Regions from separate parts of the Homo sapiens genome. Here region 2 is linked to region 1. The links come from fine-mapping of genetic effects on plasma protein levels. A gene starts in region 1. The other region holds a variant in brackets. All regions are shown on one strand. Distances are from middle to middle.

Region 1 (8,000 bases):
GGAGCCTTACTCTCGGTGGTGTAGCGCAGCTTCCAGCCCCGGCTGTCCCCCGACTCATCTGTGAAGAACAGCAGATCCACAGCATTGCTGCTGGTGTCGAGGTCGGGGGGCCTTTGCTTCCCACAGAACTCGCCAATGTTCTTCCCGTTGGCATAGATCTAGTAGGGGAGGAGGGTTTTTTTTTTTCAGCTTGGACGTTTTTACACAGGGCCAACTGGGTAGTAGCCTGGTGGCCAGGGTGGTGGTGGTGGTGATGAAATCCTGCCTTATGTGTGTTTTCAGGGGAAGGTGAAAAGGGATCCCCATGACCCAATTCTAGTTGTGTGGGAACTTACCCAGCCCATGGGTGATGTTGGCCGTTCCTGCCCCAGCTGGCCAGGGGATCCAGGAGGAAGTTGGGACAAGAGGAGCCAAGTGCAGACAGAAGGGGAGGAAGGGGTCTTTCAGGGGTAGGACGGCTGTACCTGTAGCTGGTCATAGGGGCAGTGTACTTGCTGGTGGTCATCAATATCAAAAGGCTCCAGGAACTTGAGGTGCAGGGTGAGGCCCCGCTCCACCCGGATGCTGTAGTTGCAGCGCAGGTCAGGGGGGTAGGACCGAGGGTACTCCAGGCTGGAGATGTAGCCTGATGCCTCCGTGTACAGCTCGCTGCTGCACTCAGCTGTGAGAGCAGAGCCACAGGGCATTACGGGGGACTCCAGCTGGCCCAGCAAGCCCTGGCTCAACCCCTTCCCCTCTGCTACACCACTCTGGCTCACCCTGGCAGGAATGCCTGTCTTCCTGAAGCTCATAGCCTGGACGGCAGGAACAGAAGTAGCCTCCAACGTAGTTGTGACACAGGTGCTGGCACTGGGGCTGGGGATCCTCCTCCCCTGATTTGCTCCGGGAAGCACATTCATCAAGGTCTGGAAGGCATTCAGGAAGGAGGGTTAAGCTTCTGCTGGGAGACCTGAGTAGTGGCTCTGATCTTAGGGAGGTCACTCACCAGAGACCTAAAGACAAAGGCATCTTTAGGCCACCTGGACCTCCAGGCCTCTCCAATGCTCTCTGGGGACTGCTCCATGGGGACAGAGCCCAGGTTGACAGGCCTCGTTAGGAAAAGCTCTCTCGAGGGGAGGAACAAGGAAAGCCAGGCTTTCGGCTTCTTTGCATTCAAGATTCCCTTTCTTGGCCCCCCATTCAATATGGCTGAGGTCAGAGAAAAGGGATCCCTGGGGGGCTACTCACCCACAGCTTGGTAGTAGGCCAGGAAGCCCTTGTAGAACATGATGGTCCCATTCTCCTCGTTGGAGAAGTCTGTGTGGAAGGTCAGCAGCATCTTGTTCCCTTGGGACATAAATTCCTTCTTTCCCGGGGGGTTGCCCAGTGGAGAACCCAGTTGCCCACAGAACCTCCCCAGGCTTTTCTTATCAGCAGAGATCTGGTGGAAGAAGGACAGGGGGTAGGAAGAAGATCTGTTGCGGAGTGGCGCACGTGGTGGCTCAGTGATGGTCCTCCTTGTCTCGCCCAGAGTGCATCATGCACCACAATGGCTCTGGCTGGTCACTACCTGCTGGGCTCAGCTGCTGCAAACTTCCCCATGTGACTTTCAGCTGTTCCCTGAGTCTCCCACTGACTCACTCTTTGCGTGTTGTCCTGGACTGGGTACCTCACCCTTTCCCTGTTTTCTGCTCCTCTGGCAGGTTTCAGGTCCTTCTCCATCCCCACCACCTCCTATGGCCTGTTCCCCTGGGGTCCTGGTTGTCTGTACCCAGCCTTTACCTGCCCCTCATTCCCAGAGCTCAGACAGCTCCGCTTTATTTTCTGTCTTCAGATTCCACCTCAGCCTAATCAAACCATTCACACCTCGAGTGCCTCCTGATGCCCTCGGCGGAACATGAGCCCTGAAGCCCACCCATCTCAGTGTCAGCAGGCACTGCCTCGTCCCTCTTCCTTCCTCCTCACAGCCTCCTCAACCTCTCCTTGACTCTGCCAGCAAACGCCCTCCCCCAACACTGCACACTCGCCAAGTCTTCTGAGCCGGTAAGACGTGCCATTGTCATGTAATTCACGCATAATCTCCAGGGGTCTCCTGGGAATGGTAGTTGTTGGACCTTCGCAGGCTCTGCTTGAGCCCTGAATCTCATTTTTACTGGATAGAGAAAGACAGGCCTGGGAAGGTACCCTTGGTTGCCACAGAGGTGAGGGTTCTGAGCACACTGTCCTTGCTGAAGGCTATTCCTGTGCTGCCAGAGCCCACATTTCTCCTCCTCATGTCCCTGTGTTCCTGTTGAAGCAGGCAGCCATGTCAATCATTTCCTTGGAGACAGGGAAGCTGAGGCACAGTGGTTTCCCAAAGACTCTCAGCTAGACAGCAGATGGGGAAGGTTTTCCTGACTCAGTGGATGTTGAATTTCCTGAGTGGGTCCTGTCCCCTTCCTTCTCTGTGCTTCTCCCCTCAGTGCTCACCGAGGGCCTCTACACCAGTGAGCGCCCATCCAGGGCATCCCCGGGCTCTCAGAGAGGCCGTTGGCCATCAGCTCTTGTGGGGCTGGGCTGTGTCTGGGGGTGTGCATGCCATACAGATCCCAGATCCCAGAGGGCCCAGTTTTGTCTCCCCTCTGCCCGCCCATCCTGCCCCTACCTTGACATAATCATAGAAGCAGCCTTCAGAAGGCTCCAGGTCAAACTGCTGGAAGACGAGCTTCACCCTGTATCCCGTGGGGACTGTGATCACAGTGGTTGTTTCAAAGTTGTTGGGGTAAGGCTTGGGGAACAGAGGGGAAGTCACCTCCCCAAATAACTTCTGAGGGATGGGAATGGAGCCTCCTGCCCTGCAGAACAGGGCCGGCACCAGGAGGTACAAGAGCCACCTGCCAAAACAAAAGAGAGTATCTGGAGCTGGAGGGGTTCAGCACTCTTGCCATGTGGGCAGTGGCTGTGGCAGGGGATGAGACGGCCATACCACTGGGCATTCTCCTCTCTGCCCACCCTGAACCTCACAGACATGTTCTCAGCAGGGGTGCGTGGGTGGGGAGGATGGCCTGTGCAGCTGCTGCATCGGGTCACTCTCCAGGGCAGTGTCCAGTCCAGAGGCCACCACACTCCCCTCACACTCCCTTTCCAGCCTCCTCCCCTGCCCGGACGCGTCCCTCCCCTCCCCTTCCAGGAATAGGACTGGCTTGGGACCAGTTAATGGAGGGTGAGGGTTTCCACCCGTGGGTCTCTGAAAGGGCTCCCACAGGTTCAGCAAGAGCGTCTGGGAGAAACCATCTGTGGAGTGGGGGACACAGGCACAGAGTGTCCCGTCCTGGGCAAGGGGTCCCCTCCTCTCGCTGCTCCCTGCCAAGAGCCCAGAGGGAAGAAAGGACCATGGCATGAGCATCTATGTATGAAGTCTCCTCTGATCCCTAGGAGGAGGGATGGGGCGTGTGTTGTGTGTGTCCACGCGTGTGCACAGTGGAACTGATGAGGTGTGTGAAGAGAGAAGGGTGTTCCTGTCTCCCTGAATTGCCTCCCATGCCCTGGCTTCTCCCCTGGCTTCTCCCTCCCACCTGGTTGCCCATCACCCTTACTCACATTTCTCAAGGCCCGTGTTGAATCCTGGGCTCTCCCGACAGCGTCTTCGTGCACTGTGTGCAGAGGGAGCCCGCGTCATGCACAGCAGGGAGGGGAGGGTTTTCTGTGGAGTGGAGGGGGGACCATTCCCGGAGGAATGTTGGAGGGAATGAACTATTTGCATAAACAAAAGATCTGAGTTTCCACTTTAATTTAGTTTTGGTTTTGAAATCCCTGTTTGTGGTGCCACCTGCTGGTCGGTGAGGGAAAGGGCTAAGGAGACGGGAGTCTGGCTTTTTAGGGCCCGGGGAGCCTTGGGTTGGAGGCCCAGATGTCTCAGTCTCTAAATCTGATCAGCTTCTCCCTTCTTCCAAGACTTTCCTGGGGGCTGCTGCTGTGTTTACAAGGTTCCTACCAAAGCAGTGGGAGACCACAGGTGGTGGTGAATTCTCTTTTCTGGGCTGTCCTTTCCCATTGACCCTGTTCTTCCTGCCCTCATTCAGCCCACAGCCCTGGTCCAAGAATGGCCCGGGTTTCAATGCCCAGGACGTAATGATAGGAACACTGGGGCAGAGGAGGGTGTGTGGGAGCGGGCAGAGGAGAGAGGAGCTTGGTTGCCTTGGGGCCCTGGCCTGCTTTAGCCATGAATGACACTTGGACATAGAATAGGGTTGGCCATGTCAGGGCAACCCTAAATCAGCCCTGGGTTTGAGACCCTCTGGGGCGGCTGCGGAGGGGGTAAAATGTCCCCATCTCCTTAGCATCTGCTCAACACAACTGCCAGGGCTGAAGCTAAGGATGCGGGTGTGGAGCAAGAGGGACTCGGTTTTTCTGAGATGAAGCCAGGCCCCTGGGAGGGAGGAGGGACCCTAGTCTCTCCTGTCCATCAGGCCATAGTGTCCTGCTTTAAAACTTTTGCTCTTGGCCACGTGTGGTGGCTCATGCCTGTGATGCCAGCACTTTTCGAGGCCAGGGTGGGAAGATCTCTTGAGCCCAGGAGTTCGAAACCAGCCTGGGCAACATAGTGAGATCTCGTCTCTAAAAGTTAAAATAAATTAAAAAACAATTTCATTGTTTTTGGAAGGCTTTCTTCATCAACTCTCCATGGCACCAAATATCTGATGGCACTTCATCCCACGGAGGGGCTTGGGCTGCAGAGCAGGACTCTGCGTTCTTAAGCCTTTGTAGGCTGTTCTGCTTGTTTCCCTTATTAGATGAATCCCTCCAACCTCCACCCTTCTGCCCCCACCCCCGTTCATCCATTTATGGGCTACCTGTTTAATGTGCAAGACACTTTCCCAGGCAATAGATTGCAAGAATTCACAGAGCTGATGCAGTTCCCCATCAGGCAGTGACCACATCATCAGTAGTTAGACAGCAGGCACACAGAAGGTGCAAGATCCACCAACGCTTGGAGGGTTTCTCCAGCAGGCCTGTGTGTCAGAGCTGAGGACTGAACCTAACGGAGGGCTGGTCTGTGATGGGATCAGCATATGATCCACAGCCTTGTTAGATCAGGAAAGACAAAAGATGGGGGAGAAGGAAAAGCACCAGATCAGAGGACGAGAAGGAAGGGGAATCTCGTCTAACAAACTGCACATTAATATCCTAGCAGCAGTTTGTGTGTGTGTGTGTGTGTGCACGCGCGCATGTGCCGTATGTTCATAATGGAGGCAGAGGGAACAGGTAAGGAGGTAAGTCTTAGCTGAAGCTCTTCCGTCCATCCTAGGGATTCTCAGTTCTGCGTTGGCATTGTGCAACACGCTTGGAGAGCGGCAAACCTGGATGTCATTAGCTCAGTCCCAGCCCTGTCTCCACTCTGCCCAACCATTCAAAATAACCTTTACTCACACATTTTTGTTATGTCCTTGACTTTGTTTTGTCCTTGACTCATACCAAGAAGGAAAAAAATGCCATATGAAATGCTGCTGCGTTTGTTTTAAAACAATTATTGAGGATATAGTCGGTTACAGTGTTTGTTCCTTTAAGGATTTGATTCTTGGGAAAAAGATTTCTCTCTTAAAGTAGTGGTAGGTTTTCCTCTGTGGATATGTCTCTATCGCTAGCTCATCTATCTCCATCATCTCTATCTCTTACCTCCCTCTCTCTCTCATTGTCGATATCTCTATCTCTAGACAGAGACAGCGATGGAGATGTAGAGATATAGATCTAGACATACACATATAAATATAGGTATATATATATTTTTTTGCCTTGGCAGGGAGAAACTCATATCATTTTTTGCAATCATAAAAATAAGCAAAATAAAATAAAAACATTTCATGCTCATTAAACAAATTTTAGCCAATAGAGAATAGTGGAAAACCAAACAGCCAAAATCTTATCAATAAAACCACCTCTGTTTAGTATTTTGAGAGAATTATTATTATATTTTTGGCGATGGGGTTTCACTATGTTGCTTAGGCTGGACTTCAACTCCTGGGCTCAAGCGATCCTCTTGCATCAGCCTCCTGAGTGGCTGGGGGTATAAGTGTGCATCATTGCACCTGCCTTTTGGGAATATTTTTAATAATCTTTTGTACTGTATGTGGGTGTAAAAAACAGAAGTAATCACATGTATGTACAACTTTGAATCCTGCCATTTTTTAGAGATAAATTTAACCTTTGACCATATAGCAACTTGACTCTTGATGCTAACAAATTACCTCTCTTCTCTCTTTTATGGTGTTTATTTTCTATTTCCATTGAACAGTTGTATTTTATTTGTGTCTTTCACTGTAAATCACCTCCAATCTTTTTTTTTTGGGGGGGATGAAGTCTTGGTCTGTCCGCAGGCTGGAGTGCAGTGGCGTGATCTTAGCTCACTGCAACCTCCGCCTCCCAGGTTCAAGTGATTCTCCTGCCTCAGCCTCCCGAGTAGCTGGGACTACAGGCACGTGTCACCACGCCCGGCTAATTTTTGTATTTTTAGTAGAGATGGGGTTTCACCATGTTGGCCAGGATGGGCTGGATCTCCTGACCTCGTGATCCACCCACCTCGGACTCCTAAGGTGTTGGGATTACAGGCGTGAGCCACTGCGCCCGGCCCATCACCTCCAGGTTTTACTAAAAATTAAAGAGTTGGTCCTCTCAGGTGGAGCAGTTCCCCTGATGATAGGGGCACAGGTGGGGTGTCTGCAAGAACTTCAGTCCAGTGCTGGGCTCACCTGGCTTCTGCAGGAGATGGGGCCATTAGGAAAGTGTGAGCTAGAGGATACCATTTTCGCAGAAGCAGGAATTCCCAGGGAGGGAAAATGGTAAGGATGTGGGGGCTGGGAGGGAAAGCGGGTGACACAGCAGGTTAGAGGAGGGTTGAGAAGTATTGCAGCACACTGGGAAGAGCACAGTCTCTGCAGTCACACACCAGCTGTGGGACTTGGGCAAGTCCCTTTATCCCCTGAGCCTCAGTTTCCTCATTTGTCACACATAGATAATAACACATCCTTTGCAAATATGGTATGAGGATTAAGTGAAATAACAGGTGAAGCACCTGGCATATAGAGGACATAAAATAAAAAAGGAGCTGTTTCTATAATTGCATCTTGGAGCTGCAGAATAGCTTGAATATTTGAAGGTCAACTAAAGGGTCTTAGGAATGTTTCAGAAATGCAATGCAATGAAAACCCCTTCCTCCATACTCTAATAGCGGGTGAGTAGCTGACTCTTCCACAGGTGAGTATAAAAGCTGTGTCAACAGATGAAGTAGGGGAAGGCGGTTCTAAGGACATTCAAGGCGAAAGTTGTTGAGATGTACAGGCTTCCCGGGGCCTAGTGCATGAGCACAGGGAGGTAGAGGGTGAGGAGGAGCGGTCTGTGGGACTCTGCTTCCTGTCTGGGATGGGGCGGGCTTGCCGGGTGGGGGTTTCTCTTGCAGTGGCTTGGTGCAACAGTGATGTGAATAGGATTTCCCTGCCTCCCCCAACCCCCCACCCCCAACCCCTACCCCAGTGTTCAGTCCTCACTCCAGGCCCTCTGTTGCCTGGGGCCTCCACTGTGCTGGTCAGTCCCTGTTCAAGCCCCCAGGGTCAATTCTTGCCATTCATCACTCCCTTGATCCAGTCCACATAGCTGAGCACCTTGGTGTAGAAGTCATACCCTTCGCCACACCCTATGCCCCAGGACACAATGCCCGTGGCCACCCAGTGATGGGCATGATTGTCCCATACCACATAGACGCTGCCACTGTCCCCCTGGCAGACACTGTGCCTTTGCGTCTCATCCCCAACACAGAACATATTGTCAGAAAACACCTCGGGTCTCTGTCTCTTTTGGAGCCAGGCGTTGCAGGCCTCCCTGGGAGCTACAGGCAGCCTCGAGTACTTCAGCTCAGTAGTTAGCCAGCCCATCTCCATGCCAAACCCACTGACGTAGCCCAACAAGCCGCTGCGGTAGAGGGTCTCATTATCGGGCAGACAGACCGGGAGGACGTTGGGGCCCAGGGGGATGCTGTGCTGCAGCTCCAG
Region 2 (8,764 bases), 23 kb before region 1:
TCTTGGGCTCAAGCAAGCGTCCCACCTCAGCCTCCTGAGTAGCTGGGCCCACAGACGTGTGTCATCAAACCCAGCTAATATTTTTATTGTTATTCTTTTTTTTTTTACAGAGATGGGGTTTTGCTATGTTGCTCAGGATAGCCTGAAACTCCTAGCCTCAAGCAATGCTCCCACCTCGGCCTCCCAAAGTGCTGGGATTATAGGTGTGAGCCACTGCACTCAGCCTGAAGATAAAATTATCTTTTCTCCTGACCCTTATTTTCTTCTTATTTTATGTGACATTTAATGCCTCTTTTATTTGTATCTCCCACTTCCCAATTTTACCTCTTCCCTTTAGTTCTTTCCCTCTTCTGATTTCATCATTTTGTTCAGTTTGTTGCAGGAGATCGGCAATTTGGTCCTTACTGTGGTCATGGATTCCCTGGGCCTCTAAATATTGAAACCAAGAGTAATGCTCTTGATATCATCTTCCAAACTGATCTAACAGGGCAAAAAAAGGGCTGGAAACTTCGCTATCATGGAGATCGTGAGTAACTTAGAAGTGCCTCTTTGGTTGGTGATACCAAAGTCCCCAAACAATGTGGGATCAAAGCAGGTAGATGATCCAGGCACACTGGAAGCACCTGTGATCTCAGCTACCGAGGGAGGCTGAGGCAGGAGGATCCCTTGAGCCCAGGAAGTAGGAGTTTGAGTCCACTCTGGGCAACAGAGCAAAACCTTGTCTCTAAAACAAAACAAAAACAAAGCAACAATAATTTAAAAAACAGATAGATTGTTGTTCTGATAGAATCCTGAGATACTTCACTTCTTCAGGAAAATCTAAACCAGTCAACGGTTGCTAGAAATGCCTCAACCTCTAGTAATCCTTTAACTAGACCTGAGACTGCAGACAGCTTGCGGGTGGTTAGTTGGTAATGCCATATGATTTTAGACATCTGCTGTATTGGAATGTTAAGCATCAGGATTGAGGACAACTGGACGATTTTAGAAAGTGTGAGAATGATGTAAATAGAATGAGAGTCTTCAACTATTTAGTAATTTTTTCCTCCTGTCCCAACTTCTGTTCTTTCAAGCAATGCCCTGCCCTAAGGAAGACACTCCCAATTCTGTTTGGGAGCCTGCGAAGGCAAAATATGTCTTTAGAGATGTGGTGCAGATAACCTGTCTGGATGGGTTTGAAGTTGTGGAGGTAAAGTACCACCTTGGCTTCTCCCCAGTCCCTGGCCCCAGATCAGGATGAGCGGACTGAAATTGTCCAGTTGTTTACCCAATGTATGTGTGTGATCAAGGTATAACACCTTTCCCATAAACACAACAGCTTAAGATCTGTAGTTCTCCCTTGTGAGTCATGGAGCTGCCTGGCCAGCTTGGCATTCTCTCTGCCTTCAGTCTTCTTGAGGAAGGGGAGTTGACACGTTGGGGCAAAGCTTTCTGTCAGCCTCATCTCCTGGGTGCTTTAGGTCTGCTAAGATGTTCCCAAGCTTCTTGTGGTGAGGACTCCTCATTGATCCAAGGCCAGAGATCAATTCCAGTTTTGATTTTGGTTTCCCATATCTCTCTTCAGAAATAAGTGGTGATGTTTATTATTCTCCAGGGACGTGTTGGTGCAACATCTTTCTATTCGACTTGTCAAAGCAATGGAAAGTGGAGTAATTCCAAACTGAAATGTCAACGTATGTGTCTCTTCAAAGTGGAAGTCTTTCTTTTTCTCTCAGAGAGAATGGAAAGATCAGCACATCAAAATTCAAATGCATGGTTTCCTCTTAGGCATGTGAGGGAGTGGGTTGGGTTTTTGAAGGGAAGCCAGTCATGGAAGCTTTTCTAGTCCCAGCCCCGCATCTGGTCCCAGGCCAACTAGATCGGCATGTTTCTTTCCAAGAAAGGGGCTATGGGATAGGTCGAGTTAGTAGCCCCACGTGGGTGCATTTGTGGCTTCCACTGGGCCTTCACCAACCACTGAGAACCAGGCTCTTCACTACGGCTTTCATGGGGCCATCTGAATTGGCATCTCAGCGGGTGAGAGAGCTGAGAGATGCCAGTTGGGGAGGATGGCCACAGAGAGGCTGGTGTGGGGAGGTTCATCCCAGGTGTGCCTGTGGATATGGGGTGGGGAAGCAGTGAGGATGAACCTGGCCCCATGACTCTTCCTTGGAGGAAGTGGCTGTCCTGACCATCGCTCTCCTTCCTTCGTCTGGTAGCTGTGGACTGTGGCATTCCTGAATCCATTGAGAATGGTAAAGTTGAAGACCCAGAGAGCACTTTGTTTGGTTCTGTCATCCGCTACACTTGTGAGGAGCCATATTACTACATGGAAAATGGAGGAGGTGGTAGGTTTCTTCTACTGGAGAAGAGAGAGAGAGAGTGAGAAGGTGTTGGAGGGTGGATAGCATAATCTGTGCCAGAGACAGAGTTTGGAGACAAATGAAGGCGATAGGACAGACATTGTTCATCCCCTTGGCTTCGTCCAAAGATACAGTTTTCATCTGGAGCAGGGCAAGTTCAGGGGAGCATCAGCCTCAGGGAATCATAGAGGTCACCAACTGAGTTCACAGCTGCAGCAGGAATTCCCCTACAACATCCATTTCATGGGATTACCCACCTTTTGACCAGTTATTTCATGTAAAACCCACAGGAGCAATGCCTTCAGCTTTAAGCCACCAAACTACACTGACTGGCTTTCTTGATGTAGAGGCTTTGGTCATGCTAGGTGCAGGGCTGAATGAGACCCTAATACGTTCTCTGCATTGCTCTGTATTTATTTCGCCACTTTCCCGATGCCTTCTTTCCTTCTGCTTTGGAGATGTTCCCTTTGTCTCCCTGGCAGGCTAGAGGCCTGAGGGATTGTTTGGAGGAAGATATTTTTTTTCTGGCTGATTTAATCTGATTTACTACTTGAATCCTAGACGAGCTGAGGTTCTGAAGGAACGGGGCAGGGTGTTGGGGTCGGAGGGGGGAATGGAAGAAGGAAGATGTGGTGGTGAGTGTGGCCTGTGTTCTCTGTGCTATTCCAGGGGAGTATCACTGTGCTGGTAACGGGAGCTGGGTGAATGAGGTGCTGGGCCCGGAGCTGCCGAAATGTGTTCCAGGTAAGGAGGGCTGAGGCTTGGGGAGAGATGATAGCCATGGGTGACTGGGAGTCACCTTCTGAAAGCAACTGTAATCCTCTTGGGAAAGGACTGAACAGTGACCTGCCAGAGTCCAGCTCAGTGAGGTGGCAGTATCACTGTGCCGTGGGCTGCCAGGGCCGTGGGGAACCTCCTCAGCCGCACTGAAGCCAGGCCAACTGGAAGGAAATAGAAACGTCAGCCAGCGACAGTTGGTGTCTGGTAATGTAGCTGCAGTGAGAAGATACAGAACTGCTAAAAACAGGGCCTGAAAGCTGAGAGTGTGTGAGTAATCAACACTCAGAAACAAGTCTAGCTAAATAGCCTAGTTATTATATTAAAAGTTTATAG[G/A]GCAGCAAGATATAGAGGAATTCAAAGAATGAGGAAGATAAGAGTTGGGTAGCAGAAGGCTGAGGCAAATCCAATAGGATAATAACCATCCTGGGTGGTACTGAAAGCTGAAGACTGAGCTGATTTGTTGCATTTATTATCTCATTCGTGTCCGTATAACAGCCCTGTGAGCTAGGTGTCATTGGTCTTATCTGACCAATGTCAAATGTGAATGGGTGGGGTGCAAGTTCACAGAGTTAGCAAGTGGCAAAGGCAGGCTTTGAGCCCAGGTCTGTCTAAGTTCACAGCCCATTGTGCTCAACTTGGAGTCCCTCCAGGCTGTCTAGTAAGGGATTTAAGTAAGCAGCTTCACTTGAATTCAGTTATTAGTATAACTGAATGGTAATGGCACCAGTCACTGGGAGTGAGAGGTCAGGGCCAAAGAAGGGACCCCTCTCTACTTCCTAGGCTGACCTGTGGTTTACTAGGAGGGACTCAGGTGCAACTAGGACTCCAGTAAAGAAGGTGATTAAAGTTTGATCTGGGCATCTGAAGAAGGCAGAAATCTTTCCTCCTCCACCATCTGTGTGAGAAAAGGGTTTCCAGCACTGGCTCTTGATTGGGCACCGGCCTCATGTGCCGAGTTGGGAGGTGCAAAGGGGACCCCTGCCTCCAGGGGGGCTGTGGGTCGCACTGTGGATAGTGTGAGGCATTAGTGCATCTGGACTCAGTGATTCACACACTGCCTCCGTTTAACTGAGCTCTCCCATGAGCCAGCTTATGACATCGGCAAAGCGGGATGTTTAGGTAAGGCCAGAGTGGGTCAGGTATTGAGATTGTTGACCAAATAGGGTTGACTATTTTGTACTAGAGAATCCTGCAACCTAGCAGGTAACATTATGTGAGTGGTTGGAGGATTTGCAGGAAGCCAGCATCATTTCTTCCTCCTTCCCTGTGTTGTTTTATTCCTTCCTAGTCTGTGGAGTCCCCAGAGAACCCTTTGAAGAAAAACAGAGGATAATTGGAGGATCCGATGCAGATATTAAAAACTTCCCCTGGCAAGTCTTCTTTGACAACCCATGGGCTGGTGGAGCGCTCATTAATGAGTACTGGGTGCTGACGGCTGCTCATGTTGTGGAGGGAAACAGGGAGCCAACAATGTATGTTGGGTCCACCTCAGTGCAGACCTCACGGCTGGCAAAATCCAAGATGCTCACTCCTGAGCATGTGTTTATTCATCCGGGATGGAAGCTGCTGGAAGTCCCAGAAGGACGAACCAATTTTGATAATGACATTGCACTGGTGCGGCTGAAAGACCCAGTGAAAATGGGACCCACCGTCTCTCCCATCTGCCTACCAGGCACCTCTTCCGACTACAACCTCATGGATGGGGACCTGGGACTGATCTCAGGCTGGGGCCGAACAGAGAAGAGAGATCGTGCTGTTCGCCTCAAGGCGGCAAGGTTACCTGTAGCTCCTTTAAGAAAATGCAAAGAAGTGAAAGTGGAGAAACCCACAGCAGATGCAGAGGCCTATGTTTTCACTCCTAACATGATCTGTGCTGGAGGAGAGAAGGGCATGGATAGCTGTAAAGGGGACAGTGGTGGGGCCTTTGCTGTACAGGATCCCAATGACAAGACCAAATTCTACGCAGCTGGCCTGGTGTCCTGGGGGCCCCAGTGTGGGACCTATGGGCTCTACACACGGGTAAAGAACTATGTTGACTGGATAATGAAGACTATGCAGGAAAATAGCACCCCCCGTGAGGACTAATCCAGATACATCCCACCAGCCTCTCCAAGGGTGGTGACCAATGCATTACCTTCTGTTCCTTATGATATTCTCATTATTTCATCATGACTGAAAGAAGACACGAGCGAATGATTTAAATAGAACTTGATTGTTGAGACGCCTTGCTAGAGGTAGAGTTTGATCATAGAATTGTGCTGGTCATACATTTGTGGTCTGACTCCTTGGGGTCCTTTCCCCGGAGTACCTATTGTAGATAACACTATGGGTGGGGCACTCCTTTCTTGCACTATTCCACAGGGATACCTTAATTCTTTGTTTCCTCTTTACCTGTTCAAAATTCCATTTACTTGATCATTCTCAGTATCCACTGTCTATGTACAATAAAGGATGTTTATAAGCAAATTTTGTGTGACTTACCTCATTCCACACCAAACCCTCAGAATTATAGAAGGGGAATGGGATGAGAAGGCTGTTATGTCACTGAAATTGGGCATCCAGCAACTAATATTTAATTTAATTGTCACGAAAACAGGGAATTCAGCTTTTCTTCTCTCTTCCAAATGAGATTTACTGAATATTGTGGGTTAGTATGAAGATCGCCAGTGTAAGGCATCACATTCTGCTTTTGAAACTCATTAATATTTACCTGGCCAAAAAAAAAAAAAAAAAAAAAAGAAGAAAAGAAAAATAAGAAAAAAAAGAAGCTCATTAAATGTCATGTGGTGCGTGGCTCACACCTGTGATCCCAACACTTTGGGAGGCAGGGGTGGGAGGATTGCTTGAGCCCAGGGATTCAAGACCAGTGTGAGCAACATAGGGAGACCCTGTCTCTACAAAAATAAAAAATAAAAATTAGCTAGGCATGATGGTGCGTGCCTTAGTCCCAGCTACTCAGGAGGCTGAGTTGGGAGGATCGCTTGAGCCCAGGAGGTCAAGGTTGCAGTGATCATGCCACTGTACTCCAGCCTGGGCAACCAGAGTGAGACATTATCTGGAACAAAGCAAAATAAAAAAACCCCACCTCATTCAGAAATCCATGTACAATAGTTTGAGTTGGCTGTTTAAGATCTTCTTTAAGTAGAAATTGTTTCAATATGTGAACGGAAAGTTAATTTTCCTCTAATACTCATTGTATCATGCAATATTATGACAACAAAAAAGAAAAACTAAAGAAATTGAGCATGCTCTTGTCTGCTTTCCTGGTGGTTTTAATCAATTTGTGACAATGTTTTCATTAGACTGAACTCTGTACCAAGATGACATAGCAGAAAATCTCGGTAAGGATGGACCCCAAAACTCTCCCTTCTATTTTCTAGGGGAAGGAAAAGAAAAGATTCCTCTTCCAAAAGAATGATTAGTGATGAGAAATGACTACAGAATAGAGACTTAGCATTTTAAAAACTGAGGACAGGACAACTATCTTAGGACAGCGGTTGCCCTAACAGGGCGTCTTAGGAAAGCGGAGGTCTGAGAGGAAGAGCTGAGGGGGAATCTGACCTATTTGATGTGACACGTGGCTTTCAGGAGGGCAGTTTTTACTAGAAGCCAAAAAAGGTTGGTTTGGGCCCATCAAGAATGGACTTTGATATTCCATAGACCAAGAGGGCTAAATTCAACAGTTGACCTTAGACCGCAGGGTAAACGTGATGAGGTAACCAGAGGAACTCTAATTGAAGGGCCTGAAGAATTGAAGGGAATTACAACAGGGAGTCCCTGGGAGGATTATATGGTCAACCAAGCAGCATAAAGTCACTGTGTCACTCCTGAACTGTATGCCTCATAGCCACCTCCTCACCCTTCCTGTCATTGCAGGAGCAATGGAGTTGACAGTGTGCCCTGGGTGAGAGTGTTTCCGTGAGAGGAGGATTCTTCTAGAGATAAAAAGGCATTGGAGGAATATTAAGATTTAGAAACATGGTCTGTGAAAGGGATATTGTTCTTCTTTTTTTATACTTGGGGCAATAGCAAAAAATTAACCTGGAATCTGACAAGTAACAGAAAAAGGAAGTTCATCCCTCTCGGAGAATCACCAGTCTATTTGGGTTCTGCCCTTGCTGATGGGCTGAGGTATTGGTGAAGAATTTCCCTCTTTGCTGCCACCTTGTACGGCATGACGGGAATGGGCTTTGCATCGTTGACTGTGCTGCAAGGTCATTTCTCTGGGTGAATGGCAGGGAGAAGACCTAAATGAATCATGATCAGAGACTTCAGAGCTGGGAAGAGCTTGTCATCAGGTCCTAGAGGGGCTAGAAAGTCATTCATTGTGTTTAAAGGGTATCCATCGTAGTACCTTGCAAGTTACTTGGGAACATATGTCCGCTTCATCTGAAACTCAGGAAAAGAGTTAGCTTTTTGAAGAAGGTGAATTGTCACTTTTCTTTGGTCAGAAGAAAATGGACTGGTGGGTCAGCAACTCATGCCAGGGAGGAAAGACAATGTCCGGTGGTCAAGAGGGCTTGAACCTACTTGAAACTGGACCAGCCCAGAAGGGGCTAGAAGGGATCCTGGGACTCTAAAGTTTCCTTTACAGTGACTGCTAGAATCAGAAACATATTCAGTGGAAATGTGACTTTTTTCCTGCATATTGGTTATTATTTTAAAAATTGAAAATATGATGTGAGGCGTGGTGACTCACACCTGTAATCCCAGCACTTTGGGAGGCCAGGGAGGATGGATCACATGAGGTCAGGAGTTTGAGAGCAGCCTGACCAACACAGTGAAACCTTGTCTCTACTAAAAATACAAAAATTAGCCAGGTGTGGTGGCAGGTGCTTGTAATCCCAGCTACTCGGGAGGCTGAGGCAGGAGAATCGCTTGAACCTGGTATTGCAGTGAGCCGAGATGGCACCACTGCATTCCAGCCTGGGCAGCAGAGTGAGATTCCGTCTCACACACACACACACACACACACACACACACACACACACACACACGGACACAACACAGCTTTATTTAATCTTGATCAGATCCACAAACTCTGCCATGGTTTTTAAAATAATGATTTAACAAAACCCTTTTTCTTTTGACATATTCACAAGAAGTTGCAAAGTTAGTACAGAGAGGCGCTATTTCCCCTAATGGCTACATCTTAGGTAACTACAGTACAATATCTAAACCAGGAAACTCATGTTGGTACAATGTGCAAGGGCAGTTTTGTGTTATTTTACTACATTGGAGACTCATGTGAGCACCTCTGCAGTCAAGATACGAAACAATTCCATCACTACCAAGATTTCCCTCTTGCTACGTTTTGTACTCACATCCTTTTTTATTTTCTCTTACAATCATAAAAAGACACATTGGAAAGATCCAGCTTCTCTCATTTGTCCTAAGAGGAAATTGATTTTGGGTATGTCCACCCTTGAACCAGAGAAAAGCAGAGACTGGACATATTGAGGGAGATGAAGTTGTGGTAACAGGAACCACAACGGGGGAACCCCCCCCCCCCAGAGCAAAACCTACAGGGAAAGTCTCTGATGGACCTAGTTTCCTGAATGGAAGCATCTGTTTTAAAAAAAATCTCTCTTCCTCTATAAGGGACTACAAAGAACACAGAAGACCTGCAGCTGCCAGGAAGG

Direction of the effects. Positions count from the first base shown, and alleles are read on the strand shown. Strength reflects both the effect of a copy and how common the allele is.
As copies of A replace G in region 2, the plasma level of the protein whose gene starts at base 3,617 in region 1 goes down (strong association).

The links. A credible set is the group of variants that fine-mapping cannot tell apart. PIP is the chance, under the fine-mapping model, that this variant and not a neighbour inherited with it causes the effect. The UK Biobank Pharma Proteomics Project read protein levels with antibody pairs (Olink). The fine-mapping took linkage between variants from a reference panel, not from the people measured, so its PIPs are less certain.
Region 2: its variant is the best candidate, but not a certain one, in a credible set for the plasma level of the C1R protein (UK Biobank, PIP 0.64).

The regions. Positions count from the first base shown.
Region 1 is chr12:7,088,829-7,096,828 of GRCh38, forward strand. C1R (complement C1r) reads right to left here and starts at 3,617. Exons shown (of 11, transcript NM_001733.7): 1 at 3,559-3,617; 2 at 2,624-2,852; 3 at 1,228-1,420; 4 at 759-905; 5 at 465-661; 6 at 11-158. The coding sequence starts at 3,560. It overlaps C1RL (complement C1r subcomponent like), which reads right to left. Exons shown (of 6, transcript NM_016546.4): 6 at 5,726-8,000. The coding sequence ends at 7,563. RefSeq lists an enhancer at 3,665-3,959.
Region 2 is chr12:7,065,445-7,074,208 of GRCh38, forward strand. C1S (complement C1s) reads left to right here. Exons shown (of 12, transcript NM_001734.5): 7 at 373-526; 8 at 1,074-1,189; 9 at 1,595-1,673; 10 at 2,199-2,327; 11 at 3,012-3,086; 12 at 4,411-5,588. The coding sequence ends at 5,207. Among named protein-coding and RNA genes, the nearest start is that of C1S, 9.1 kb to the left of the region's middle. The variant G/A (reference allele first, on the strand shown) is at 3,456.